7 linked regions of the Homo sapiens genome follow. The protein of the gene in region 7 purifies or fractionates together with the protein of the main gene of each other region. This does not show direct contact. Each region holds a gene or a part of one and is shown on either strand. Other genes may lie near its edges. The genes, in order: ISY1-RAB43, ODF2, CEP170, ISY1, SRPK3, ESS2 and CDC40.

Region 1 (3,922 bases), on a different chromosome or scaffold from region 7:
TTCAAATAGCACAGATAGAGTTAAAGTCCTCTTACCTCTACACTCATCCCAGTGCCCCTCCTAGAGGTAACTGATAACCATTATTATCTGTTTGGTATGTTCCTTTCCGGCCTTAAAAATTTTTTTATTTTTTTAGGCCAGGTGCGGTGGCTCATGCCTGTAATCCCAGCACTTTGGGAGGCTGAGGCGGGCGGATCACAAGGTCAGGAGATCAAGACCATCCTGGCTAACATGGTGAAACCCCGTCTCTGCTAAAAAAAAATACAAAAAATTAGCTGGGCATGGTGGCGGGCACCTGTAATCCCAGCTACTTGGGAGGCTGAGGCAGGAGAATGGCGTGAACCCAGGAGGCGGAGCTTGCAGTGAACTGAGATCGCGCCATTGCACTCCAGCCTGGGCAACAGAGTGAGGCTCTGTCTAAAAAAATAAAATTAAAAAATAAAAAATAAAAAAAAAAAGAAGAAGAAAATACAAAATTAGCTGGGCATGGTGGCAGGTGCCTATAATCCCAGCTACTCGGGAGACTAAGGCAGGAGAATGGCGTGAACCCAGGAGGCGGAGCTTGCAGTGAGCTGAGATCACGCCATTGCACTCCAGCCTGGGTGACAGAGCGAGGCTCTGTCTTTAAAAAAAAAAAAAAAGAAGAAGAAGAAAATACAAAATTAGCCGGGCGTGGTGGTGCGTGCCTGTAATTCCAGCTACTCAGGAGGCTGAGGCAGGAGAATTGCTTGAACCCAGGAGGCGGAGGTTGTGGTGAGCTGAGATTGCGCCATTGCACTCCAGCCTGAGCAACAAGAGCGAGACTCCGTCCCACAAAAAAAAGAAAAAAACATGCTGGGATTACAGGCATGAGTCACTGCACCTGGCCAGCTTTTATTCTTTCACCAATCTGGTTGGTTGTCATTTTGTTTTTCATTTTTAATAATTACTTAGCCGGGTGCAGTGGCTCACACCTATAATCTTAGCACTTTGGGAAGCCTAAGCGGGTGGATCACCTGAGGTCAGGAGTTCGAGACTTGCCTGGCCAACATGGTGAAACCCCATCTCTACTAAAAATACAAAAATTAGCTGGGTGTGGTGGCGGGTGCTTGTAATCCCAGCTACTCGGGAGGCTGAGGCAGGAGAATCGCTTGAACCCGGGATGCAGAGGTTGCAGTGAGCCAAGATCATGCCATTGCACTCCAGCCTGGACAAGAGCGAAATTCCATCTCAAAAAAAAAAAAGAATTACTTAAATATTCTGGATTGTAGTCCTAGTCTGAAAATATCTTCTTTAGGGCTTTCTCATGTATCTTTTTTGTTTGTTTCTAGCTTCTTTTGTCTTTTTTATTTACTTATGTTTCCTGTCATGCTTTTTCATTAAACATTATGACAGTTCCTGTGTTATTAAAATACTTTGTGAAATAGCATTACAGGGGCTGCAGGATATCCCATCCCATACATATTCTGCAATTTACAATCATAGGTTATTCCCAAGTTTTCTCTATTATATAAATAATACTGTGATGCATATTTCTGTACATGAAGCTTTTTGCTATCTCGTGTTTGGTTTTTGTTTTTTTTTTTTTGAGATGGAGTCTCGCTCTGTCGCCCAGGCTGCAGTGCAGTGGTGCAGTCTTCGCTCACTGCAACCTCTGTCCCCTGGGTTCAAGCGATTCTCCTGCCTCAGCCTCAGGAGTAGCTGGGATTACAGGGGCCCCCACCACCATGCCTGGCTAATTTTTGTATTTTTAGTAGAGATGGGGTTTCACCATATTGGCCACGCTGGTCTTGAACTGCTGACCTCGTGATTCTCCCGCCTCGGCCTCCCAAAGTGCTGGGATTACAGGCATGAGTCACCGCACCCGGCCTGGTTTTGTTTTTTACTTAGGTAGATTGCTTTTAAACGGACAAATGGGTCCAAGTACTGATTTTAAAAAGGGCTCTACCACTTAAATAATTCCATGAATAGTATAGAAAAGTGTCTATCCATGGTATTTTCTTTTTCTGTGTGATGGAGTCTTGTTTTGTCGCCCAGGCTGGAGTGCAGTGGCGTGATCTCGGCTCACTGCAAACTCTGCCTCCTAGGTTCAAGCGATTCTCCTGCCACAGCCTGAGTAGCTGGGATTACAGGTGCGCACCACCACGCCCGGCTAATTTTTGTATTTTTAGTAGAGACGAGGTTTCACCATGTTGGTCAGGCTGGTCTCGAACTCCTGACCTTGTGAGCCACCTGTCTGGGCCTCCCAAAGCGCTAGGATTACAAGCATGAGCCACTGCGCCCACCTGGTATTTTCATGAACATACGTGCCACGTGTGTGTATAGCGTTGCATCAGGAGACAGCTTCGCTGGAGTGTGATTATGACTTGGAAACTCAGCTCCATTTCTGTTTCTTATAGCTCTTCCTCCTCCCAGAAAGACACGTGCTGAGCTCATGAAGGCAATCGATTTTGAGTACTATGGTTACCTAGATGAAGATGATGGTGTTATTGTGCCTTTGGAACAGGAATATGAAAAGAAACGTAGGTCTCTGGGCATTTTATTTCATAATAGATGGCATCTGTTTTCTGTTGTGTCCTTTGAAAACAGGATTTTCAATAGTGCTTTATGCCAGAAGGGAGTTTTCTTTGTTGCTAATGATCTTCAGGCGTGATGGTCTGCTAATTCCCTGACCCCTGTGAGGCAGTCAAAGCTGTGTGGGCCAGAGGTAACAGGTTGGGGAAGCCATGAGAGCCACGTCTGACCGGTCCCTGTCTGCTAGGAGGTCACCATGTGGATTCGTGCTAATACCAGTGCCCATGTGACACATCAGGCCAGGACTTTGGAAGCAAGTGGTCTGGAGCTGGAGCTGCTTTCTAGCATGCTCTGCCCCTGCCTTCTCTCTTTTCATGTGGACATGTTGGGAATCCACTCAGGTTGTGGAAGTGGGGAGGATTTGGGAATGTTCCCTAAAAAGCTGCTTTGTAGTGACTGAAGGCCAGAGCTGTTGTAGGACTACCATGCTTCACATCCATTTCCACCCACGGGGGCAGAATGAAGGGTGTCCCTTTCTAGAGGGGATGTCTAGACTTTCCCTGCATAGTGTTGGCCTTTCCCTGCATAGTGTTGAAAGCTCATTTAGAGACAAATAAATAGCACCTACCCTCTCTTGTGTTCAGTCAGAGCCGAGTTAGTGGAAAAGTGGAAAGCAGAGAGAGAGGCTCGGCTGGCAAGAGGAGAAAAGGAAGAGGAGGAGGAAGAGGAGGAAGAGATCAACATCTATGCAGTCACCGAGGAGGAGGTATTGGGGTTGGCCCCCTCTGGCACTCACTGCCATCTGTTCCAAGCCATGAAGTGTGGCAGGGAGGAAACTTGGCTCCCAAATACAGAGTCAGGGTTCACAGCCCAGCTTGCTCACCTGCAGGATGGCTGTGAAAACACTTGCGAGATTACAGGAGGGTTTCAGGAGGCAGCAGCCATGAGAGTGCCCTGCCGGCCGTGCTTTACACCAGGGCTTCCTTCTTTCCTTCTTAAAGACAGGCCCTTCTGCATACACTAGAATTAGACTGATAAACACAGAGGAAGCCATGAGCTTTAGCCCATGACCTCATCACTTCTGTTCACGTGTCAGTGGCAGTTGCTCTTCTGTAGTCTAACACCCCCATCTTTTTTATTTTTTTTGAAACGGAATCTGGCTCTGTTGCCCAGGCTGGAGTGCAGTGGCACAATCTTGGCTCACTGCAACCTCTGCCTTCCGGGTTCAAGCAATTCTTCTGCCTCAACCTCCCAAGTAGCTGGGACTACAGGCGAGTGCCACCACGCATGGCTAATTTTTGTATTTTTAGTAGAGACGGGGTTTCACCATATTGGCCAGGCTGGTCTCGAACTCCTGACCTTGTGATCCACCTGCCTTGGCCTCCCAAAGTGCTGGGATGACAGGTGTGAACCATTGCTCCCAGCCCTA
Region 2 (3,922 bases), on a different chromosome or scaffold from region 7:
CAGTGGCGGGCGCCTGTAGTCCCAGCTACTCGGAAGGCTGAGGCAGGAGAATGGCGTGAACCCGGGAGGCGGAGCTTGCATTGAGCCGAGATAGCACCACTGCACTCCAGCCTGGGCGAAAGAGCAAGACTCCATCTCAAAAAAAAAGAGGTGGGCAAGAGTCCTCCAGCCCTGGTCCCAGCCTTAGTTTCAGAGGTGAAGGTGCCTGACATCCTAGGAGGCCCTAAGTGCCTCAGGTGGCCAGTGCACTTGCAAGGAGGCTACAACCAAGTGGGCTCCTTCCAGGCTCCACCTCTGCTCTGCCCTGCCAGCCTTGGAAATGGCAGCTAGATCCCCCAGGCCCTGCAGAGCTCCTTAAATTGGAAGGCATCCTGGAAGTGCACTGAGGACAGTGTGTGTATATCGGGATGGCCATATTTGCCCTATGGCTGGTCACACAAGATGTTGAGTGGTGTAGCTGAAGTCCCTTTGCTGTGGGAGGCAGCAGTGAACAGCAGAAGTTGCAGGCTTAGGTTTTGGTTACAGACTTGCCAGCTGTGCTGACTTCAGGCCAATGAATTCCCCTCTCTGAGGCTCAGTTTCTTCATTTCTGAAGTGGGGATAATAATGGTACCATTTTTCTGAGCTGCAAGTTGCTGTGTTCCATGTGATGCTATCCACACTTAACAAAGCCCACGGTCAGTCTCTGCGTTCCCACCCTTCACTCTGTTCTCTAACCAGTTGCTCCAGCTGCACAGTTCTTTGGTCGCCTTGCTGATCTGCAGATTTCTTTGGCTTATTCCTGTGGCTCCTTGGAGATTCTTGGCATGATGAGATCCCCAGTCCAGGAGAGGCTGGCAGCCCCCTGGCGGGGTGGAACATGACAGGTTGGGGTATGCCCAGGATCTGATTGAGTGCTTTCACCTAGGAAACTGGAGGCGACCAGTGCCCAGAATATCGAGTTCCTACAGGTGATTGCCAAGAGGGAGGAGGCAATCCACCAGTCCCAGCTGCGGCTGGAGGAGAAAACACGGGAATGTGGGACCCTGGCAAGGCAGTTGGAGAGTGCCATTGAAGATGCGAGGAGGCAGGTCAGTCCCGATTTCATGAATGACTAGCTCTGTGACCTTGGGCAAATCACCTAAACTCTCAGCTTATTTCTCCATCTGAAAAATGGGCACACAGTAGTACCCGCTTCATGAATTAGTTGTAAGGATCACATTTTCATCGTAGAGGGCTCAGCACTTGATATCTGATGATTGCTCATTTACTCACTACCCTCTTGAGCCTCACATAGGCTTACCACATCTTAGGTGGTGACTCCTGGAGCACTGGCAAAGCTGGGTGGCAGGCATAGTCCCCATAGTTAGTTCCTGCCCCAGCGTTCTAGAGAACACAGTCCACAATGATGTGCAAGTGCTGTCTGCAAGACCAGATAGTGGGCCCAGCCTTCTCTTTGCCAAGTGTTCCCCATGTCCGGTAAACCAGTCTCATGTCTGGGCCTTTGAATGTGCAGGTGGAACAAACCAAGGAGCACGCACTCTCCAAGGAGCGAGCAGCCCAGAACAAAATCCTGGACCTTGAGACCCAGCTGAGCAGAACCAAAACGGAATTGAGCCAGCTGCGGCGGAGCCGTGATGATGTGAGTCAGGCTGGTGGGCCGGGCTAGGAGAGTGGGCAGCAGACCTAGCTTCTGTGGGGCCTGTGGGCCAAGGTGTTTTGTTGTTACTGTTTTTGTGAATATGACATGGTTTTATTTTTCTCCAATCACTTTCTATCCCTTAAGGATATCCTGGGTAGATATTTATTTATTTATTTAGAGACGGAGTCTCCCTGTGTCACCCAGGCTGGAATGCAGTGGTACGATCTCAGCTCACTGCAACCTCTGCCTCCTGGTTTCATATGATCCCCACCCCACCCTCAGCCTCCCAAGTAGCTGGGATTACAAGTATGTGCCACCATCCCTGGCTACTTTTTTGTGTGTATTTTTAGTAGAGATGGGGTTTCGCCATGTTGGCCAGGCTGGTCTTCAACTCGTGATCTCAAATGATCTGCCCATCATGGCCTCCCAAAGTGCTGGGATTACAGGTGTGAGCCACTGCACCCAGACTCACGTTTTGTTTTGTTTTGTTTTGTTTTGTTTTAGACAGAGTTTCATTCTGTCACCCAGGCTACAGTGCAGTGGTGCTGTCATAGCTCACTGCAGCTTCAAACTCCTGGGGTCAAGTAGTCCTCCCACCCCAGCCTCCTGAGCAGCTAGGACTACAGGCGCACACCATCACACCCAGCTAATTTTTGTATTTTTTGTAGAGATAGAGTCTCACTATGTTGCCCATGCTGGTCTTGAACTCCTAGGCTCCAGTGATCATTCCGTCCTGACCTCCCGAAGTGTTGGGATTATAGGCATGAGCCACTGTGCCTGGTCTTAGAATATTTTCAGAAAGAAACCCCATACCCATTAGAAGTCACTCCACACTCGCCTCCCCAAACCTCCTGGCAACTCCTAAGAAAGTCCCTATGTCTCTATGGATTTCTATTTTGGACACTGCACAGCGGGCCCATGCTCTGTTTCTCCTCGTTAGGCGGACCGCCGCTACCAGAGCCGGCTGCAAGACCTGAAAGATCGCCTGGAGCAGTCCGAGAGCACCAACCGCAGCATGCAGAACTACGTCCAGTTCCTCAAATCATCATACGCCAACGTGTTTGGGGATGGTCCCTATTCCACCTTCCTGACTAGCTCTCCCATCCGCTCCCGATCTCCTCCTGCCTGAGGCCACTTATCAGGGCCTGGAGCCCTGATGGAAGCCATAGGAACTCCAGAGTTGCCAAGCCATAGCTGAGAAGCCTGGTGGTTTTCCTCTCCCAGTGAAAAAATGGGTTCAGGGTCTTGTCCTTAGCTACTAGCTCTAGAAAAGTCCCAAAAGCAGCAGAAGGTGAAGCAGGAAGCACTTGGTTTTCTCCTTCCTGATATAGTCACCTGTTGGAAGTGTTAAAATTTCCTCGACAGGCCTTAAATTTACTACTACATTAGGGTACCACATTTTAACTTACCATGACTTTGCTCCTTCCTTTCCTGAGAAAATATTTCCACTGGATTTTTTCCACCAGTCCCCTTACAGCCCTCATTGTTTTAGGAATCTCTCTCAGGTTTTTTCTGACCTAAACCAGCAGGAAGTCGTCCTGGGCTGTAAGCACCATCACTTGCTTTTTTTTTTTTTCTGATTTCACAAGTGTGGTGTTTTCCCAAGGCTCCCTTCCCAAGCTCAGTGCAAACCTCTCACTCCCAAGTTTCTTTGAGGCCACTTGCCCCCAAGCACTTCACAATAGACCCTCGAGGGCTTGTGTCCATTTGGCCTTTTACAAGTGTAATGCCAATTTCATTGATTTTTGTTTCTTTTGGCCTGATTTGTATCTCTGGAATGCATTTATTCTTGAAATATTTGTGTGATTTTACAAAAAGCTTTTGTAATCAGTTATTTAAGGCTCCATTTGATGATTTCCTTTACCCAACCAGTCCTCATCCCTCCTCTAAAAAATGATTAAGTAAAATGCTGCAGGACAGCCAGTAGACATTTTTAAAGTACTTGGTGCCTGAAACATCAGGCTTCTCATTTCATTTTAGCTCAGGTTGGTGCTTTCACATTGTAATCAATGAACTGTCAGGAGGGAACAAACTGTAAGAAGGATTGCTTGGTGTTTTAGGGTAGATCACTTTAGCTATTAGGAAGAGGATGGGGTAGTGTACAGTATATATTTTTAAAATGTGAATTGGTTTCTGAATAAGAATCTGGGCCATTTTTGTTCACCATTTTTGTTCGTACTGTGCTAACCTCTGCCCTTCTGATTCTAGCTAGTATTGGCCTGGGTGGTCCAGTCTTCTCACCTCTCAGCCACTCTGACTCAACTCTAGAGAATTTCTTCTCTGTTCTTTTTTCTTCTGGAG
Region 3 (3,922 bases), on a different chromosome or scaffold from region 7:
AGAAGCAAAGCATGTCCATTATCAAAATGAAGAGCAAGTTGAAATGAGACATATTTCCCTAAAGCTCAAAAATAAATTCTGCTTTTAAACAGATTAATAGAAAAATCACTTACAGACAATTTATTAGGAAAACAAGGCAATACAGGGAGACTAGGTTGTTTCCAAACATTTTCTAATTAAGTGAAGCGTTTGGTCTTTTGAAACATCTTTTCAAAAATTAAATTTTAGTGGGATCTGTCAGGTACTATAATTGGTTTCTTGACAGCAGTCTGAATATGAAATAATATAAAACCTGACTGCTTTTAGGTTACAGAAGAATGATATAGTAACATCTCTCTTTCATAATCAAATGTGTGGGATAGGGCACGGAAGACAACAAGCTCCATTTCCACAATAAATATAATAATAATAAATTGTCAAAAAAATCTAAACACAAGGCAAAGAGAACATATAATATGAAAGAATATATTGTAATTTTCACTGTGAAAAATTATCCCTTTTAAAATCTACTCAGCTTTCCTATCACTGAACATGAAAGAAAAGTATTGGAAAAACTCTACATTATCAGAGAAATAATCATACATTTATATGACATGACCTAAGTTTAAAAAAATGTTTGATTAAAGAGTTAATTTGTCTTTTTCTTAAAAATAAAATGTTCAGCTGGACTTGTGAGTGTTTACTCTGAAGTCATGTTAGTTAAAATTTCCATTAGAATAAAATGTATTAACTGCTTCTCATATATTAATAGTTCATTAATGTTATTTTTCTATTTTTTCAGACATTGATTTTTTTTTACTATGCACAATGTACTGTACTTGATCAAGTCCATACAGTACAACTGGTTCATAAACCTGTCCTCTCTCCCTCCCCCCATATAGATATATACATATAGTTTGTTTTTGCTTTGCTCATCCTTCAGGTGACAGAACAACGTCAAGATGGTAGTTTCTAATACCACTACACAGAGAGCCAAATAAAACTGATCCACTATACAGAGAGCTAAATAAAACTGATGTGGCTCAGCTATGAAGCAACACAAAAAAGCTGGCCAGGGATATAGCACTTATCAAGGTCACCTGTTTTGAAGGTCACCATTCCCATGTTAGTACTACTTCAAACTCGCATTCACTCAAAGCTAGAAACTTGAGACTTATACAAGTTAATAACTAATTCATCTAGAAATCAAGTACCTAACCAGGTCAAGTAGCACAATAGAGTGGAAAGGCAGCAGACTATGATCTGATGATCATAACCAGGCAGCCTGGTTTCATGCAAAGCCCAGACAAGATCTGAAATCAGATAAATCTTATCCCTAATCAGTCTGTAGTCCTCATTTTCCTCATCATAAAGTGAGAAAACAGTATCTTCCCATAAGATTGTTGTGAAGATTTAGTGAGATGAGTATTAAGTGAGATCATGTAAGTTACCCAGAACAAAGCAGGTACACAAATAAATGCTTCTCCCTCCACCTTCAAAAACAGCTGAGAATCAGGAAGACAAAAAGCTAATACCAAAACCCAACTCTAAAAAACCCAAGACAGATATGACAATGCCTATCCTTGAATATTCATAAACATTACTAACAGTTAAGATCTTCACCGAGAGGTTTTTACTATTTACTCAGATCACATGTAGCAAACCTTGGGCAGGGTACAAAAGTGAGGATTAAGGACAGACAAATTGCACCAAGTGGTAGAGACAAGATGAAAAACAAGAGCAGACAAATGGCCCCAAAAACATGATAGTCCAGTACCATTCAGTATATAGGGCAAACAGTCTTATATACTACAGTCTCCTGAGGACATTACTGTAAGGCAGTATCAGTATTATTATATTACTAATATATTTGATTATTGATTATATCAATATTGCTATTGCTATTGATATATATAATAGTAATACTGATATTGATGATTGATGATTTTGAGTCATAAGAAAAAGTTTTAAATTATACTGAAACTTCTCTGCTTAAGAAGGTGGTAATATGGGTAATTAATTTAATAGAAACTTAGGAAATGGTTAAACTTCAAAAAAACTATCAACTGTAAAAGTAAAGTTCAATCATCTGGAAAATTCATTATGTGGAAGGATTCATTTCCCTAAAGATGATAAAAACAGATGAAGTGTGGTCCAACTACACTTGAGAAGTACCTAATAGAAAACTATAAGGGGTCTTCTAATCAACACAGAAAAATAAAACACCTTTCCTCCCTCAGAACACTAACAGAACATATTCTGGAATTTAGAAATTTAACATTCATCTATCTTCAAAACTCATTTTGTTATACCAAATGAAACTAAATAATAGAGTAAATACTTGTTTAGACTAATATTATATTATTAATCTCAATTACTAGATTTTAAAAAATTATTTAATGATTGATTATGCCATAATTAATTCCATATATCTCAATCAGAAAAGCAATTGGTGATAATCTGCTTATGTTCTTAAGGTATTTTATGACTGTGTTACCTTAACACAATATGTTATAAGGGATACTTATACTTCATCCAGAATAAATGTTCTTTTCATTCTTCTGTACTAAATTCAATGAAATATTAAACTTATTTGAGATGACAAGGACTATAATTATAACAGCTCATTCTGCTTAAGACATCCATCTAACCTAGTCTGTTCAAGCATGTCAAATTAAGAAGACTGGGAAGCTCCTTTTGCTTAAAAGGAGCTACGACTTGAAAATTTCCAAATTTAGTTTCGCTGGATTAAAAATCAACATGAGAGAGCCAAAAATCTATGATTCCCAGTTGCACATGCCATTTCAAAATGTGTGCAACAGTTAAAGGCCTTTAATTATAACCTAAATTAATTGTTGAGACCAAGTTAGGAGGTAGAAAAGCATAGCTGTAAATAAATTGAGGACAAACTTTACGTCTTAATACGATTAAAAATAGTCACACAATTTCTGGAGAACGAAATTGCTCTAAAGTAAGTATTTGCTTAAACCAGGGCTTTTTAAGCTATATGGCAAGTCTTCGGGAGTTTCTGGATATATATGAACCCACAGAGAGGAACGTTAAAAATTACTAGGTAGCAAACACTCTATTATCCTTTCTGGAATGCAACTCTAAAAATTAATAACGAAGAAGCAAATCACTTTTTGCTTTCACTAAGAGTATGCTACAGGATAAATTATTAAACTAATCACGTATATTCCACAATTTGAAACTTAAAAAAAAAGTTTAAGTTTTTAAAAATACCTTAATTTCAAAATGACCACATTAAAGAACACTTGATATACATTTCAAATCTGATTCTACAATTTCTGCTGGCTTCATAAATTATTACAAGACAGTAAACTATTTTCCTCATCCTATATTTTAAAAAGCTGCAAATGATAAATCTGAAACAGTAATATCCTCATACTAACATAAGAAAGCAAGTGAGAGTCTCTTAAGGCTATTACTAATCAGCTGTATCTGACAGGGCACTTTAAGGAATTTGACACAAGACATAAATCACTGAATTATTACTCAAAAAGAACCCCAAGATCATGAGACGGCTTTTGGTCATCTAGCAGAAAGAGTACACAAGCTGAGAATTCAGTTACATTCATATAGATGAAAGTATTGCTGGATGCTTCACATTTGAAATTTATTTTATTATGCTGAGCTAGGAGGGATCAATTTTTATGGCTATTTGATTTTGGAGTATTTGTTTAAATCTTTGTACCCTATGAAGTATATCCTTTTAGAGTGATTGTGTTTACAAGAGTAATGATGGCTGAAATATTAAAACTTCTTATGGTTAAGAGCGTGGACTCAGGAGTCAGGCAATCTAAGTTCAAATCCCAGCTCCATTATTTGTAGTTGGGTGACTTTGACAAGTAAATTAATTTCAGTATGCCTCAGTTTCTTTATCTACAAAATCACCGTAACTGTACCTTTAGGTATTGCTGTG
Region 4 (3,922 bases), on a different chromosome or scaffold from region 7:
CAGACTGACCAAGAAAAAATATACACAAATTAAGAATATTAGGAACCAAATTGGGAATATTACTATAGAATCTATATACATTAAAAGGATAATAAGGAAATATTACAGACAATGTTATGCCCATAAATTTGACAACTTAGATGAAATAGGTCAATTCCTTACAAGACACAAACTGCCAAAGCTCACTTAAGAGAAGTGGTCCTTTTTTTTTTTTTTTTTTTTTTTTGAGATGGAGTCTTGCTCTGTCACCCAGGCTAGAGTGCAGTGGCGAGTTCTCGGCTCACTGCACTGGGTTCAAGCAATTTCTCCCTGGGTTCACCTCCCTGGGTTCAAGCAATTTCTCCTGCCTCAGCCTCCCGAGTAGCTGGGATTACAGGCACCCTCCATCATACCTGGCTAATTTTTTTTTTTTTTTTTTTTTTTGAGACAGAGTCTCGCTCTGTCACCCAGGCTGGAGTGCAGTGGCGCCATCTCAGCTCACTGCAGGCTCCGCCCCCCGGGGTTCACGCCATTCTCCTGCCTCAGCCTCCCGCGTAGCTGGGACTACAGGCGCCCACCCCCTCGCCTGGCTGATCTTTTGTATTTTTAGTAGAGATGGGGTTTCACCGTGTTAGCCAGGATGGTCTCGATCTCCTGACCTCGTGATCCGCCCGCCTCGGCCTCCCAAAGTGCTGGGATTACAGGCGTGAGCCATGGCGCCCAGCCAAATTTTTGTAATTTTTTAGTAGAGACAGGGTTTCACCATGTTGAACAGGCTGGTCTTCAATTCCTGACCTCAGGGGATCCACCCTCCTCGGCCTTCCAAAGTGCTAGGATTACAGGTGTAAGCCACAGTGCCTGGCCGAGAAATAGTTCATTTTGTTTTGTTTTGTTTTGTTTTGAGACAGAGTCTTGCTCTGTTGCCCACACTGGAGTGCAGTGGCATGATCTTGGCTCACCGCAGCCTCTGCCTCCCGGGTTCAAGCGAATCTCCTGCCTCAGCCTCCTGAGTAGCTGGGCCTACAGGCGCCCACCACCATGCCCAGCTAATTTTTTTTTGTATTTTTAGTAGAGACGGGGTTTCACCATGTTAGCCAGGATGGTCTCGATCTCCTGACCTCATGACCTGCCCACCTCACCCTCCCGTAGTGCTGGGATTACAGGCTTGAGCCACTGCGCCCAGCCCTGAAGAAATTTTTGATTGTTACAACTGGAAGGGTGCTACTGGCACATAGTGGGTAGAGGCCAGGGATGTGCTAAGCCTCCTACAAATAATTATCCTAAATAAACTACAGTGTCAATAATTCTACTGTTTAGAGACACAGTTCAAAAAGAAATGGTAAACCTGAGTAGTCCTATATCTGTTAAAGAAATTGGGGCTGTGCACCGTGGCTCACGCCTGTAACTGCAGCACTTTGGGAAGTGGAGGTGGGTGGATCACCTGAGGTTAGGAGTTCAAGACCAGGCTGGCCAACATGGTGAAACCCTGTCTCTATGAAAAATACAAAAATTAGCCAGGCATGGTGACGCATGCGTGTAATCCTAGCTACTTGGGAGGCTGAGGCAGGAGAATCACTTTAACCCAGGAGGCAGAGGTTGCAGTGAGCCAAGATTGGGCCACTGCACTCCAGCCTGGGTGACAGAGCGACAGTCCATCTCAAAAAAAAAAAAAAAAAAGATGGAAAGAAATTGAATTCATTTCTAAATACCTTTCTAAAAGAAAATTCCAGACCCAGATGGCTTCACTGGTCAGTTCTACTAAATATTTAAGGAAGAAATAATACCAACTCCACATAGTTTCCTCAAGAAAATGGAAGAAGAGGGAACACTTTGTAACTCATTTTGTGAATTTTAGTATCAGCATTACCCTGATGCTAAAATCAGAAAAAGATATTATGAGAAATAACTACTGACAATATTTCCTATGAATATAGACAAAAATCTTTAATGAAACATTAGCATATCAAACCTAGCAATGTATGGCCGGGCGCGGTGGCTCACGCCTGTAATTCCAGCACTTTGGGAGGCCAAGGTGGGTGGATCGTGAGATCAGGAGATCGAAACCATCCTGGCTAACACACGGTGAAACCCCGTCTCTACTAAAAATACAAAAAAATTAGCCGGGCGTGGTGGCAGGTGCCTGTAGTCCCAGCTTCCTGGGAGGCTGAGGCAGGCGAATCGCTGGAACCCGGGAGGCGGAGCTTGCAGTGAGCCGAGATTGCACCACTGCACTCCAGCCTGGGCGACAGAGCGAGACTCCGTCTCAAAAAAAAAAACAAAACCTAGCAATGTATAAAAAGGATAATACATCACAACTAAGGAGGATTTATTCTGGAAAAACATAGTAGATTCAGCATTCAAAAATAAGTTAATTCACTGTGTCATTCCAAAGAAGAAAAACTGTATGATCTAAGTAGATGCAGAAAAAGTATTTGACAAAATTAGACGTTTATTCATGATAAGAACTCAGCAAACTGGGAATAAAAGGGAACTTTTTACCCTGATAAAGCACTTCTTTTTTTTTTCTGAGACGGAGTTTTGCTCTTGTCACCCATGCTGGAGTGCAGTGGTGCAATTTCAGCTCAATGCAACCTCCGCCTCTCAGGTTCAAGTGATTCTCCTGCCTCAGCCTCCCGAGTAGCTGGGATTACAGGTGCCAGCCACCACGCCTAGCTAATTTTTGTATTTTCAGTAGAGACAGGGTTTTACCATGTTGGCAAGGCTGGTCTCGAATTCCCAACCTCAGGTGATCCACCCACCTTGGCCTCCCTAAGAGCTGGGATTACAGGCATGAGCCACCACACCCGGCCCTGATAAAGTACTTATAAGAAACCCATAGCCAATAAACTATTTAATGGTGAAGGATTGAATGCTTTCCTCTTAAGATCAGGAACGAGGCAAAGACATCCACTCTCACCACTATATTCAGCGTGATGCTGGAAATCCTAGCCAGTGCGGTAAAGTAAAAAAAGGAAATAAAAGGCATAAAGATTAGAAAATAATAAGTAAAACTGTCTTTATTGTAACATAGAAAATCCTATATAATTTTCTTTTTTTTGAGATGGAGTCTCGCTCTGTCACCCAGGCTGAAGTACAGTGGTGCAGTCTCGGCTCACTGCAACCTCTGTCCCCTGGGTTCAAGCGATTCTCCTGCCTCAGCCTCCTGAGTAGCTGGGACTACAGGCATGTGCCACCATGCCCGGCCAATTTTTGTATTTTTACTAGAGACAGAGTTTCGCCATGTTGGCCAGCCTGGTCTCGAACTCCCAACCTCAGGTGATCCACCCGCCTCTGCCTCCCAAAGTACTGGGATTACAGGCATGAGCCACCATGCCCACCTAAAATCCTACATAATTTTCTATGTAGAAAATCCCAAGGAACCTACAGAAAGACTTCTAAAATGGATAAGTGAATTTATCAAGATCACAGAAAAGAAGTTCAATATACAGAATTATATATATACACACACACCCCATATATATTCATATATATATTTTTATATATTTATATATATTTTTATATATTTATATATTTTATATATTTATATATATATATATTTTTTTTTGAGACAGAGTCTTCCTCTGTCACCCACGCTGGAGTGCAGTGGCCCAGTCTCGGCTCACTGCAACCTCTGCCTCCCAGGTTCAAGCTATTCTGCCTCAGCCTCTCGAGTAGCTGGGACTACAGGCATCCACCACCACACCTGGCTGATTTTTGTATTTTTAGTAGAGACAGAGTTTCACCATGTTGGCTAGGCTGGTCTGGAACTTCTGGGCTCAAGTGATATCTGCCTGCTTCAGCCTCCCAAAGTACTGGGATTACAGGTGTGAGCCACCATGCTCAGCTTCAAAATTATATTTTTATATACTAACATTGAACAGCTGGAAATACAACATTTTTTTAAAGTGCTATTTACAAAAGCACCAAAACACAAGAAATAACT
Region 5 (4,722 bases), on a different chromosome or scaffold from region 7:
GGGAGCTGGCAGAGCCTGGGGGCACAGGGTGCAAAGCCAGGCACTGTGCCCAGCAGTGGGCTCCCTGCCTGCCACCTCCCCTGCCAGCCCACCCACCTTCCCCCCACCTGAGATTGTTTCTAATTTATAAGGATCCCCCTCCTTCCCCCTCTCCCCATTGTATTTATTTGCCTGCTGGAAAATCACATCCGGAAATAAAATAGAAATATGTCTTTTTATTTTATTTTGAGACGGAGTCTCGCTCTCTCTCCCAGGCTGGAGTGCAGTGGCGCAATCTCGGCTCACTGCAACCTCTTTTTCCCGGAGTTCAAGCAATTCTCCTGCCTCAGCCTCCCGAGTAGCTGGGACTACAGGCGTGTGCCACCACACCCGACTAATTTTGGTATTTTTAGTAAAGACAGGGTTTCCCCATGTCGGACAGGCTGGTCTCAAAACTCCTGACTTCAGGTGATCTGCCCGCCTCAGCCTCCCAAAGTGCTGGGATCACAGGCATGAGCCACCGCGCCTGGCCAGAAATGTCTTTTGACAAAGGGCCCAATCCCCAGCCCCTGCTGTTCCCTGCAGGAGCTGACTCAGTGCTCTCCTGACTGAGAGTCCCTCAGCCCCATGCCTATAACCTGCTACCCACAGACAAAGAGAGGCCATCAGGTACCCGGGCTTCACTTTCCCTCCCACTCTCTGACCTCGCTGGCCCCTCCAGCAATGCCTGGCCCACCCCTACCAGTTCACGGACCCTGGTACAGGGACACTGCACCAATATCTTGGGACAAACACCCTCTCTGCCGAGCCCCCTCCCTTTCATTGGGACTCCTCTGTCAGGCCCCAGCTGGCCTCCCGGCTCCACCCTCGCCTCTCCATTCCCTTGTCCTTGAAGTGGCCAGAGTGATCTTTTGCTGAGCAGAAGCTCAGTGACCACCCCCCAACCCCATATCACCCAAGCTCCACATTAAGCCTACAGACACCAGGCCTCTAGTCCTCGCCCTCGAACCATGCGGCAGCCGTGGCCAGCACGTGAAGGGCTGGAACGCGTCTTGGCCGCAGGCCTTGCCCCACTGTGCCCTGTGCTGCCCTGGATGCTTCTGGGGACCCAATTTCTCCTGGTCTCTCATGATGCAGCCCCTGGGTCACAGGCCCCTCAGTCACCACCGCACTCATGGGGAAGTGGCTATGGGCTTGCTTGTCCCCAGCAGTGAGCAGCTTCCTGCTGCCTCCCTCATGTCTGGCTATGGAGCAGCCCACGACAGGCACCTTGCAAATGGTGGAGAGGAAGAGCAGGCGCTGGGAGCCAGAGCGCCAGGCAGCGTCGCAGGAGCAGGTTCTGGGCTGGCAAGCTCCCAGGCCTCCCCTCAGCAGGCCTGTTGCCTCTGGTAGGGGAAATGAGGGGTCCCCAGTGACGCCACATTCAGAGGGCACTGGACTCCCAGTTGTCCTAGGGGCTGATGAAACATAGAAGAAGCAGGAAGTGGCTGGGAGCAGCCAGGGACAGGGTTCCCATGGGAATGAGAAGGGCACCTCCAGGAGGATGCCCACAGGGGCACAGGTGGTGGGGGCTTGGCCTAAGGACCAGGTTGCCAAGTGGAGCACATCCCCACAGTCCGCACCGGAGAACGGGAGCCCGACCTGGGGTACGGGCTGCTTCACCCCCGCGTGGACCTCCCCCTCAGCTGGGGTGCGGAGGCTCAGCCTGGGGGCCCAGTTGCCCCTGGTCCCCAAGCAGCAGCCCCCTCTGCCTCCAGGGTGGGCCTGGAGCAGGAGGGGGGCCTCTGCCCGGGGGCCGGGCTCTCTGGGGCCGCCGTCGCGCCGCCCCCTCCCCGCACCGCATACCTTGCCCACAGCCGAGCAGCTGGGAGGCTATTTATAAAGGCGGGTGAGATCAGCGGCCGGCCAAGGCTATAAATTCGCAGGCCGCGGCCGGGCCCCACAGGAGCAGCCGCCCGGGGCACCGGAGCTGCGGGCTGCGTGGCCGGGATGAGCGCCAGCACGGGCGGTGGTGGGGACAGCGGCGGCAGCGGCGGCAGTAGCAGCAGGTAGGGCTCGGCTGGGGCACCCGGAGCCCCTGGCGTCTCTCATGCCCACTGCCACTCACCCCACCCGCAGCTCACAGGCCTCCTGCGGGCCCGAGTCCTCGGGCTCCGAACTAGCCCTGGCCACACCGGTGCCTCAGATGCTGCAGGGCCTTCTGGGCTCCGACGACGAGGAACAGGAAGACCCCAAAGACTACTGCAAGGGTGAGACTTGGCCTTGGGGACATGCGGCCTCACGGCCACTGCAGGGACCCAGGGCAGTCCTGGGCCCACATGGGCCAGATGGTCAATGGGGCCGAGGTGTTCGGGGGCCCAGGGGAGTGAGAACCCCCTCCACCCCAATCTACATCTCCCCTGGGCAGGCGGCTACCACCCTGTGAAGATCGGCGACGTGTTCAATGGGCGGTACCACGTGGTGCGCAAACTGGGCTGGGGCCACTTCTCCACCGTCTGGCTCTGCTGGGACATCCAGTGAGTGCCTCCTTCGCCTCCGGGGCCCAGCACTGGCTGGGATCCTGTCCCTGGGCTTGCTTGGGGCCACCCTGATCCCCGCCGTGGGTCCTGCCAGGGCCACAGCCTACAAGGGTCTCGGTATTGCAGGCGCAAGCGCTTTGTGGCCCTCAAAGTGGTGAAGAGTGCGGGGCATTACACGGAGACAGCTGTGGATGAGATCAAGCTCCTGAAATGTGTGAGGCACCTCCCTACCCCACTCCCAGCTCCCCTGGAGCTGCCTGGGGCCTGGCAATGCGGGTGCAAGGCCTGCCGGGGCTCTGTGGGGCAGGGCGGGGCTCCCTGAGGGGCAGCCTCCAGCTGGCTGTGCCCAAGGGGGAGGATCTGGAGGAACAGGCGAGGGACAGGAGGGGTTGGCGGCCTTTCTTCCAGCAGGGCCCAGCTGGAGCAGGAGAAGGGTACACTGAAGGGAGCTGTGGGCTTCAGGGCAGGGTGGAACCATCTGTGGCCCCTTGGCTTTTGCTCCAGGTCCGGGACAGCGACCCCAGTGACCCCAAAAGAGAGACCATTGTCCAGCTCATTGATGACTTCAGGATCTCAGGAGTCAATGGAGTCCGTATCCTTTGCAGGAAGAGCAAAGCAGTGTGGCAGCCAAGGGCCGGCAAATGGGGGGGCCCTCGCTGCTAGAGCCTGTCTGCAGACCCGCACAATGGGCTTGCATCCCTCCCAGTAACGGGAGCCTCTGGCACGACCCCGCCCCCAGGTAACTGTGTTTACGTGGAGGCAGTAACAAGCTAGCGTTGATTGTCCATGGACGTTGCTATTATCCCCAAACGGCAGGTGCTGTCTCTGTGGCACTGCCTTCCCTTTGGGGGACTGCCAAGAGGCCCTATGGCATAACTAGCATGGGAGTGGGCTGGCCCGAGAGGCCTCTGTGCCTGCTCCTCCAGCGCCACCTCTAGGATGACCACAAAATGCACCATCCCAACTGGCATACCTGTTGAGACTGACAGGGACACTATCGATGATGACACCAGCATAATGGTGACCAGGACTGCCCAGGGGAGGCCCTGCCTCCCCACCTCCACACGGCCCAAGCCTTGCTGCTCCCCTAGCTGAGGGTGGGTGGGGCCTGTGCCGCAGCTGGTGTCCACTGGCCGCCCTTCACTCCCAGCCCAGATGTGTGCATGGTGCTGGAGGTGCTGGGCCACCAGCTCCTCAAATGGATCATCAAGTCCAACTACCAGGGCCTGCCCGTGCCCTGCGTGAAGAGCATCGTGAGGCAGGTGAGTGCCACCCACTGGGCTGCCCAGCCTGGCCTGGGCGGGAGTTGGAGGAGGTCAGGTGCGACTCTCTGCAGGTGCTGCACGGCCTGGACTACCTCCACACCAAGTGCAAGATCATCCACACGGACATCAAGCCCGAGAACATCTTGCTGTGTGTGGGGGACGCTTACATCAGGCGCCTGGCTGCCGAGGCCACGGAGTGGCAACAGGCAGGGGCGCCGCCCCCCTCCCGCTCCATAGGTACCAAGGGCCCACATGGGGCTGGGTCGGGGCCTCTGGGCCTGAACCCCTGCCTGAGTCTCTGTTCCTCCCTGTCCCCCCCCACCGCTCCCCACCTGCACTCCCAGTCAGCACTGCCCCCCAGGAGGTCTTGGTAAGTTGGGGGGCCCCTCTCTCCCATGCCTCCTCTCCCATCTGAGCCAACTGGAGGCCATCTCTGGAGCCACAGTGGCTCCACCCCCCACCTTCACGCACTCCCACGGTGGTAATCCCGAAAGGCTGGGTGGCTGGGCTGACGGTAATTCCCGGGGGGGGTCAAGTGCCCCAAACTGCTCTTGGTGAAAGGATGCTGTCTTCCCCGAATGGCCACTTCCGCCTGCCTTAGCTTGGGCTGAGAGGGGACAGAGAGCACCCTGAGGCGGGCCGGCCAGGTCTTCCCACTCCTAATGGAGCTGTGGGGAGTGGGGCCACAGGCGGGGAGGCAGGGAGAGTAGTGAGTAGCTGGTGCCAAGGGGCGCTGGCGCCACATTCTGGTGTCCATGGGAGCCCTGGGGCCCGGAGAGGCCTCTTCCCTGGCGGCTGTGCAGGGAAACCTCCACTTCATGCTGACTGGGGCGGGCGACAGGAACCCTGGGGTGACCCTGGCTCTGACAGCAGACCGGTAAGCTGTCCAAAAACAAGAGGAAGAAGATGAGGCGCAAACGGAAACAGCAGAAGCGGCTGCTGGAGGAGCGGCTGCGGGA
Region 6 (3,922 bases), on a different chromosome or scaffold from region 7:
TCTCGCTCTGTCACCCAGGCTGGAGTAAAATGGTGTGATCCCGGCTCACTGCAACCTCCACCTCCCAGGTTCAAGCAATTCTCCCTGCCTTAGCCTCCCAAATAGCTGGGATTACAGGCGCCTGCCACCACTCCTGGCTAATTTTTGTATTTTGTAGTAGAGACGAGGTTTTGCCATGTTGTCCCGGCTAGTCTTGAACTCCTGACCTCAGGTGATCTGTCTGCCTCGGCCCCCCAAAGTGCTGGTATTACAGGTGTGAGCCACCGCGCCTGGCCAAGACATAACGTTTTAAAGGCATTTCTGTTTATGGTCTCTTTCCCTAATTGGCATCCCTTGCACAAGAGCAGAAGCTTTGTTTTGCTTTCATCTGTATGCTCCGTGTTGGGAACAGCACATGTGGTGTTGTGGGCCTTGCACAGATACACATGGAACAGATGAAAGAGTTGTCATCTTCAGCATGTTTGCTGGGACACACAGCTCTATATGGTAACATCGTGACTTGATGGGGGAGTCGGTTTAGGAAAGGGCACTCCGAGTCCTGTTGAATGCAAGTGTTCTGCACGCCATGGGACTTCTGCGTTGTCAGGCCCTCTTTTCATCAGTAGTAGAATGTCAGTGCATGTATAGACAAACGAGACACTCTTTCTTATCAGTTTGTAGACTCCACTGTGCTGGAGTAGCACAGATGTGTTGTGTGTTTGCACAAACATGCAAACATGATACTTTTTGCTTTACAATCCAGCTTTTTCGGCCATTAACACAGTCCTTGTTGTCCTTGAAGCTTGATTATCTGTTGAAATGTAGCTTGTGCATCACAGGGCAATTTGTAGATTTTTTTCTTCTCCTTTTTTTTTTTTTTCCTATAGAGATGAGGTTTCATTATGTTGCCCAGGCTGGTTTTAAACTTCTGAGCTCAAGTGATCCTCCCACCTTGGCCTCCCGAAGTGCTAGGATTACAAGTGTGAGCCATCATGCCTAGCCAGTTTGCAGATTTTCAATACCTGTACACCTACATGCCAGTAAATATAGGAATCCTTTTCAGAACCTAAGTGGTAGGAACCATCATCATGTTTACAGGTGAGGAAACTGAGGCTCAGAAAGGCAGTCACTTCTGCAGGTCTCAGAGATGGTCAGGGTTTCACTTCTTATCTCTCTGAGATGAATAGAGTTTCTGACCCCTGTCCTCATCCCGTGGGTCTTGAGCTTGTAGCCACTGTGCCTTGTGCATAGCCTCACGTGTAGCAGGTGGTCAGGACTGTCACTAGACTTGAAGGCAGAGCTCTCCAGGTGGCCCCACCGAAGTTTGCACCACCACACGCAGCACCAGGGCACCACCTCAGTGGGAGTACCACTTTCCATGGTGGCAGGGTTGGTCGGAGGGGGGGGTGTTTGGGGTTGTGGCTTAGCACCTGTGAGGCCCCATCCAGAGGACTAAGTCATATGAGATCCCTGGAATTGGGGCTCGCTCTCAGGTCAGGATGATTAGGCGATGACCACCCACCTGTAGTACAGGTACCAGGAAGAGAAGAGTGGGTAAGGTAAGGAAATCCTAGGGAGTGAGGGAGAGCCCCAGGGATTTGGAGGCCTGGCACCCACAGGCCTGGCACCACTTTGGTGGGGGAGGAGCCTGCCTGTGATCACGAGCTCTTGCTCTAACACCTGTATTGCTTTCTCCAGTCTGAATCAGACCACGTAATTCCCTTGGCATCCAGCACATGAGCAGAGCTGGCCCTGAATCTGTAGGGTACCACCTGAGGGCTCTCTGGGCAGTCAGGGTGGGTGGATTCTGCCCCCGTGGGGAGTCCTTGGCAGTGTGGGCTTTCATGGGCAGAAGCCAGGACCAGGGGAGAGGATTCCAGCCCTGCATGTTGGGGGCTATGATTCCTGGGCCTGGGTGTCCTCCTCTTTCCTGACTGCAAAGGGTGCTGTGTTCCTCCTCCCGCAACCCCTAAGCAGGAGAGGCTGGAGAGGAGGAGGAGAAGGAGCCGCTGCCCAGCCTAGATGTCTTCCTGAGCCGCTACACGAGTGAGGACAATGCCTCCTTCCAGGAGATCATGGAGGTGGCCAAGGAGAGAAGCCGGGCACGCCACGCTTGGCTCTACCAGGCTGAGGAAGAGTTTGAGAAGGTGTCTCTGGGGTCTGGGGTGTCACATAGGCGTAGGCACCCTCTGTGGTGGTTGGGGAGCCCCAGGGCCATGGGTACAATGCCCAGGGGCATCTCTGACCATCACTTTTCCCCATGTGATTGCAGAGGCAGAAAGATAATCTCGAACTCCCGTCAGCAGAGCACCAGGCCATCGAGAGCAGCCAGGCCAGTGTGGAGACCTGGAAGTACAAGGCCAAGAATTCCCTCATGTACTATCCAGAGGGTAAGTGGCGGGCCTCGCAGCCAAATGGGGAGGTGTTGGGTAGAGCTGTGTGTGTCTGGCTGTGTTTGGAGCAGCCTTCCAGGTGTGTATGGCCGTGCCCCCTTGCAGTTTGGGCTTCTGATGGGTACTGGTCTGTCTAAGGGTGGACAGGTCTGTGTGAGGTCAGCAGTGAGTGAGACCCTCTCCAGCGGCACTGGGGCCTGCGTTCTGCTCAATGCTTTTGTTCATCTGGGAGTGACTTGGCCGAGAAGCGAGCTCCTCATGCTCCTTAGGCTGCTGCCCTTCTGACACCTGCTGCTACCTTTGCTTCGTCTGCCAGGTGTCCCTGACGAGGAGCAGCTGTTTAAGAAGCCCCGGCAGGTGGTACATAAGAACACGCGCTTCCTTAGGGACCCCTTCAGCCAAGCCCTGAGCAGGTGCCAGCTCCAGCAGGCAGCCGCCCTCAATGCCCAGGTGAGCAGGCGGGTCAGCAGGGCCGCATGGGCCAGGTTGGACAGGGCTGCCTGGGGGCAGGCATGATCTCTCCCATCTCTTTGAGCTTGGCAGAGCTCAGTGAGTGGAACCATCTGGGGCCCTGTGCGGCAGGATCCTGAGTCTTTCCTTGGCCCCAGTGGGCTTCCATTGAACACTGCCTTGGTCACACACGTTCTGTAGGTCCAGATCTGTGCCAGCTCCCTTGATGGCAGGGGCAGGAGAGAAAAGGGACTGCTGGGAGTGAGCCCAGGCTGGCAGCTGCACGCCCACACACCGGGCAGGGAAGCCAGAGAGCCGCAGAGGGAGCCCAGCCCCAGGGGGTGGCTGGGGTGGGACAGGCCCTGGGTTGGCAGAGAGCAGAGGCTTTCTGAGTCTGGGAGCAAGACGAGTAGATACTCTCTGATGGTGACTGTGGCAGTCACAGGGTTGAAGTGGGGAAGGCAGGAAGAGACTAGAGCATAAGCATTGCCTGTCATCAGCATTGCCTGTCATCAGCATTGCCCCCTGCAGGGGCCTGGCGTCAGCATCCTCTGGAGTTGCTGGGATAGGCGCAGCTCGAGTGGAGGCCCTGGCACCTCCCTGGATGGGAGGAGGGGGCTTTCCTTGCTTGGGTACCCACTTTGACAGGCCCTCAAGGTCTTTTGGGGGGTTGGGGCAGGGGCCCTCCCTCTCTTTCTCCAAGAAGGCTGCCAACCCCAGAGCCCCAGCCTTGCCCTGAGGAGAGGAAGTGTTTCCAGCATGTTCCCACGTGTTTGCCCACCGGCCAGCTGTCGAGCGTGGGCTGCGGTCCCCCTGATGCCAGCCTCTCTGCTTGTTCCAGCACAAACAGGGCAAGGTGGGCCCCGATGGCAAGGAGCTGATCCCCCAGGAGTCCCCTCGAGTGGGTGGATTTGGATTTGTTGCCACTCCTTCCCCTGCCCCTGGTGAGAAAAGTGCCCACTGGCAAGTGGGTCTACTGCTGGGACTCCCTGGGGGAGGTGGGCTTCTCAGTCGGCCCTGGCCACTCCTGGCCTCTACCTGGCCTGCCCCACACCTTGTGTAACTCAGGGACCTGGTCTCCTGTCTGTACAAGGCCCTAG
Region 7 (3,922 bases):
ATGTGAGAGTGATGTGTCAAGTGTTATTTGTACAACAACAGTTTATATAATCATATTTGAATACGAGAATGGATTAGAAGATTTAAACTTACCTCATGTCTGGTGAAAAGTCCACCTGACAAGCATAGCCTGCTACCATATGGCCCTTAAAAATTTTTTTCTTATTTAATCTAAATCTGTTCTGTGCTCCAAAAATTAAGATTTGGTTGTCCATTGATTGGCATGCTAGCCATTTTCCTGTAAATTCAATAAATGAGGTATTTTAGAGGAAGACTAAAACAATTTTTAAAACTTTTTATTTTAAATATGTTCACTGTGATTAATATAAGTTTTGCTCCCAAATACTTTATAATACTAAAAAATAAATTTACTATACCACCTGTAAAATGTTATAAATATGTCACTGGCAAGAGGTATTAATATATAAACTAATGGCTTTTGCATATACGATCCTATATCATTGAGCACTCTCATATAAAAGTTTTTAAAAAAATAAGGAAATATAGAAATTCCAAGCTTAATGTTAAAGAAATAAGCTAAAAGTTGTGAAATGAAATTAATTTATAGTAAGTATAGACAACAGAACTATGGGAAATAGGAGAAAGAGACTTATCTGTGGTAATTACAGAATAAAGAAAGATTAAGGGGTGAGAAAGCCTAGGGTTATTAAATAAAACTATACAAAAAAAGATATATTAAAAATTATAGTAACTTTTTAAAAGGCTACAATGCTTTTCTCTACTTAGGATTCATCAAAGCCCCTAGAGCCTAAACTGCAGCGTCTATAGTCATGCACCACTTAACAATGTTTTGGTCAATGATGGACCGCACGTATGACAGTGGTCCCATAAGATTATAGTGCTAAATTTTAACTGTACCTTTTCTATGCTGAGATTTTACTGTACCTTTTCTATGTTTAGATACACAAATGCTTACCACTGACTACATTATTCAGAACAGCAACATGCCATACAGGGGTAAAGCCTAGGAGCAACAGGCTATACCATACAGCCTAGGGTAAGTAGACTATACCATCTAGGTTTGTGTAAGTACTCTGTGTGATGTTCACAAAATGACAAAATCACCTAACACTGCATTTCTCAGAAGTACCCTTGTTGTTAGGAATGCATGACTATACTTGCATCCTATATATAGTCATCCCTTGGTATCTGTTGGGAATTGGTTCCAGGATCTGCACCCCTACCCAATACCAAAATTCACAGATGCTCAAGTCCCTTATATAAAATGGCATAGTATTTGCATATAACCTACATATCTCCTGTATACATTAAATCACCTCTCGATTACTTATAATGCCTAATGCAACGTAAATGCTTTGTACCTAGTTGTTATGCTGTGTTGTTTTTAATTGTTGTATTGTTATTTTTTATTGTTTATTTTGTTGAATATTCTGGATTCGTGCTGGTTGAATCCCAGGATATGGTGCTCATGGATACAAAGGGCCAACTGTACATGTAAACATTACTTACTAAGGAAACAGACTTAAATAATGCCTGAGTGGGTAAATGGCCTTGTTCAAGATGGGCACAAAATCTGTAATAGGTGGTTTAAAAATACGCTACATGAAATATAGATGCACAGTGACGAAGTATATAATCTAGCAATGATCAAAAAAAGGTTCAGTTAGGTTTCTCTTCTCATAAAAATGATAGAGCATTTGACAACTATTACCATTTGCTTGTGTCAGAGGCCCTGATGGAACAGCAAATTCTTCCTTGCCCTACACTTGGAGTTAATTATGTGAATTGACAGTGGTTTCAATGACAAGGTCCCCCAAACATCAGAACTCCCACTTTAAGACTCTCATGTAAAGCTATAATTACATCAGTATATTGTCAGTATATCTGTAGCACAAATTATCTTGTACGTAAAAGACAATGGATTAAACAATATTAAATAGATTTATCTTCTTAATTTTTGCCTGAGAAAATCTTTTATAGTGAATTGCTAAAGTGTTCTCTCATTATGGAGAATCAGACCAAAACTTCCTATCCCCTGAAAGAGTTTACAGTAAATCACTATTACTATTTTTTTTTTTAGAGAGAAGGGTCTTGCTCTGTTGCCCAGGCTGGAGTACAGTCACATGATCATAGTCAATCTCCTGGCTCAACCAAACTGCCCATCTCAGCCTGACCAAGTAGCTAGGGCTACAAATGTGCACCACCATGCCAGCTGATTTTTAAAATTTTATTTTGTAGAGATGAGGTCTCTCTATGTTGCCCAGGCTAGTCTCAAACTCTTGGGTTCAAGTGATTCTTCTGCCTTGGCCAAATCATTATTAAATGATTTACTGAACGTGATTCTGTTTGGAAGGAGAATTAGAAAAGAAAACTCTGGCCGGGCATAGTGGCTTAGGCCTGTAATCCCAGCACCTTGGGAGGCTGAGGAGGGAAGATCACTTGAGCCCAGGAGTTTGAGACTAGCCTGGGCAACAAAGGGAGACCCTGTCTCGAAAAGAAGAAAAGAAAAGAAAAGAGGGGAGGGGAGAGGAGAGGAGGGGAGAGGAGGGGAAAAGAAAAAAGAAAAGAAAACTGATTGTTAAATAAAAATCTGATGTTCAATCAATGTTAGCTGTAAATCATTGTTTCTTTTATTTTTATTTAAAAAGAGACACAGAAAAGTAGGTGAGGTGACTTGCATATGAAAACCAGTAATTCTTTCTAATATTGTAAAGATTACCTTATACAAATAATGGCACAGTGACAAACTTCCCCAAGAAGGAAGGGGCCAAAGTTCTTTTGAATAAAGAAATCACACTGTATCTTAGAAGCTCATTTAAAAATACAATCTACATACTAACTCACCATTTGGAGACAAAGTCACTGCAGGCATTGAGTGCATACTGGGTTCTGCTATGTACTTGAAATCCACAGGGATATCCCTAAAAATTTTAAATAGCATATCAGAATAAGCAACTTTTAAAAAGTACCTTCAGAATTATCTCTGGAACAAAGGAATAATATGCAAATAAAAGCAAACTCTTGATATTATATATTTAATAAATCTTTCATGAAACTTTCTGGAAGAAGAAAAATCACAAGATGACACTGTACTGCTTATGGTAAATCCTGTACTTCATAAATCACTTTCCATGATCATTATAACAGTGGTGGTGATTTTGTTTTCTATTTCATTTAAACTTTGGCCTTTATGTTAAAAAATCTGTTACTGAAAGAAAGTTCTTTAATAATGTACCATGGTGATGGATACACTAAAATCTCAGAATTCACCACTATATAATTCATCCATGTAACCAAAACCCACTTTTACTCCAAAAGCTGTTGAAATAAAACCAAAAATTAAATTAAAAATGTACCATGGTAGGGTGAAGCAAGATGTCTGAGGTAAGCCTATGGGGAAGTGTTATTTACTGGCTAGCCTACCTTAACTTGAGGAGGTGAGAGTGTTAAACAGCCTGCAGCAATGCAGGTGGATGGCAGGCAAAGCTGTAGGGATCTGTGAGCTGATCTAGCCCATCCAGAAATGATGATAAATGATGATAAATAAATGCTTGGTACCTGGACTATCTTCAGTTTACATGTAAAGCATTTCAAATGTGTTTGGTGAAGGAGAAAAAACATAAAAAAAAAAAAAAAACCTCATGTGAGTGATGAAAGAATGAAAAAAAAATTAAAAAGTAGCCACCTAAATTTAGAACCATCAAAAGTTCTAAGTGCCTTTTCATTTTTAATATTCTCCATGCTAAAAATTCTTTTCTGAAAGGAGTTTTCGTCTTGTTGCTTTTCATGAGACCAGAAATATTTTTTTTGTAATCTGATGAATAACACAGATTATACAGCAGCAATTTCAATTTCAAACCCTGTTTCAAGTTCCAATACTTTGATTAACTGGAAAATAATAGTAATTTGCCTTAATATAAGGATTTTCTCTATTTATCCAT

Evidence for each region.
Region 1: the proteins of CDC40 (region 7) and ISY1-RAB43 fractionate together in Homo sapiens (co-fractionation; one large-scale study listed by BioGRID). This does not show direct contact.
Region 2: the proteins of CDC40 (region 7) and ODF2 purify together in Homo sapiens (co-immunoprecipitation; one large-scale study listed by IntAct). This does not show direct contact.
Region 3: the proteins of CDC40 (region 7) and CEP170 purify together in Homo sapiens (co-immunoprecipitation; one large-scale study listed by IntAct). This does not show direct contact.
Region 4: the proteins of CDC40 (region 7) and ISY1 purify together in Homo sapiens (affinity purification with mass spectrometry; 2 studies listed by BioGRID, with this or other methods). This does not show direct contact.
Region 5: the proteins of CDC40 (region 7) and SRPK3 fractionate together in Homo sapiens (co-fractionation; one large-scale study listed by BioGRID). This does not show direct contact.
Region 6: the proteins of CDC40 (region 7) and ESS2 purify together in Homo sapiens (co-immunoprecipitation; one large-scale study listed by IntAct). This does not show direct contact.

Annotation. Positions count from the first base shown.
Region 1 is NC_000003.12:129,133,411-129,137,332, reverse strand, and holds part of ISY1-RAB43 (ISY1-RAB43 protein), read left to right. Parts: intron 1-136; coding exon of another isoform or gene 137-202; intron 203-2,378; coding exon 2,379-2,501; intron 2,502-3,137; coding exon 3,138-3,259; intron 3,260-3,922. Other genes in the region: pre-mRNA-splicing factor ISY1 homolog, read left to right, coding at 137-202, 2,379-2,501, 3,138-3,259. UniProt on the Homo sapiens protein: Component of the spliceosome C complex required for the selective processing of microRNAs during embryonic stem cell differentiation. Required for the biogenesis of all miRNAs from the pri-miR-17-92 primary transcript except miR-92a.
Region 2 is NC_000009.12:128,497,506-128,501,427, forward strand, and holds the end of ODF2 (outer dense fiber protein 2), read left to right. Parts: intron 1-907; coding exon 908-1,070; intron 1,071-1,495; coding exon 1,496-1,621; intron 1,622-2,561; coding exon 2,562-2,750; 3' UTR 2,751-3,787; downstream 3,788-3,922. UniProt on the Homo sapiens protein: Seems to be a major component of sperm tail outer dense fibers (ODF).
Region 3 is NC_000001.11:243,192,485-243,196,406, forward strand, and holds part of CEP170 (centrosomal protein of 170 kDa), read right to left. Parts: intron 1-3,922.
Region 4 is NC_000003.12:129,150,744-129,154,665, reverse strand, and holds part of ISY1 (pre-mRNA-splicing factor ISY1 homolog), read left to right. Parts: intron 1-3,922. UniProt on the Homo sapiens protein: Component of the spliceosome C complex required for the selective processing of microRNAs during embryonic stem cell differentiation. Required for the biogenesis of all miRNAs from the pri-miR-17-92 primary transcript except miR-92a.
Region 5 is NC_000023.11:153,779,119-153,783,840, forward strand, and holds the start of SRPK3 (SRSF protein kinase 3), read left to right. Parts: upstream 1-1,922; 5' UTR 1,923-1,968; coding exon 1,969-2,027; exon of another isoform or gene 2,028-2,097; coding exon 2,098-2,228; exon of another isoform or gene 2,229-2,386; coding exon 2,387-2,495; exon of another isoform or gene 2,496-2,624; coding exon 2,625-2,712; exon of another isoform or gene 2,713-3,002; coding exon 3,003-3,090; exon of another isoform or gene 3,091-3,653; coding exon 3,654-3,760; exon of another isoform or gene 3,761-3,834; coding exon 3,835-4,000; exon of another isoform or gene 4,001-4,107; coding exon 4,108-4,133; exon of another isoform or gene 4,134-4,633; coding exon 4,634-4,722. UniProt on the Homo sapiens protein: Serine/arginine-rich protein-specific kinase which specifically phosphorylates its substrates at serine residues located in regions rich in arginine/serine dipeptides, known as RS domains.
Region 6 is NC_000022.11:19,138,059-19,141,980, reverse strand, and holds part of ESS2 (splicing factor ESS-2 homolog), read left to right. Parts: intron 1-1,953; coding exon of another isoform or gene 1,954-1,956; coding exon 1,957-2,126; intron 2,127-2,251; coding exon 2,252-2,369; intron 2,370-2,688; coding exon 2,689-2,822; intron 2,823-3,501; coding exon of another isoform or gene 3,502-3,561; exon of another isoform or gene 3,562-3,663; coding exon 3,664-3,766; intron 3,767-3,922. UniProt on the Homo sapiens protein: May be involved in pre-mRNA splicing.
Region 7 is NC_000006.12:110,225,147-110,229,068, reverse strand, and holds part of CDC40 (pre-mRNA-processing factor 17), read right to left. Parts: intron 2,903-3,922; coding exon 2,826-2,902; intron 238-2,825; coding exon 93-237; intron 1-92. UniProt on the Homo sapiens protein: Required for pre-mRNA splicing as component of the activated spliceosome. Plays an important role in embryonic brain development; this function does not require proline isomerization.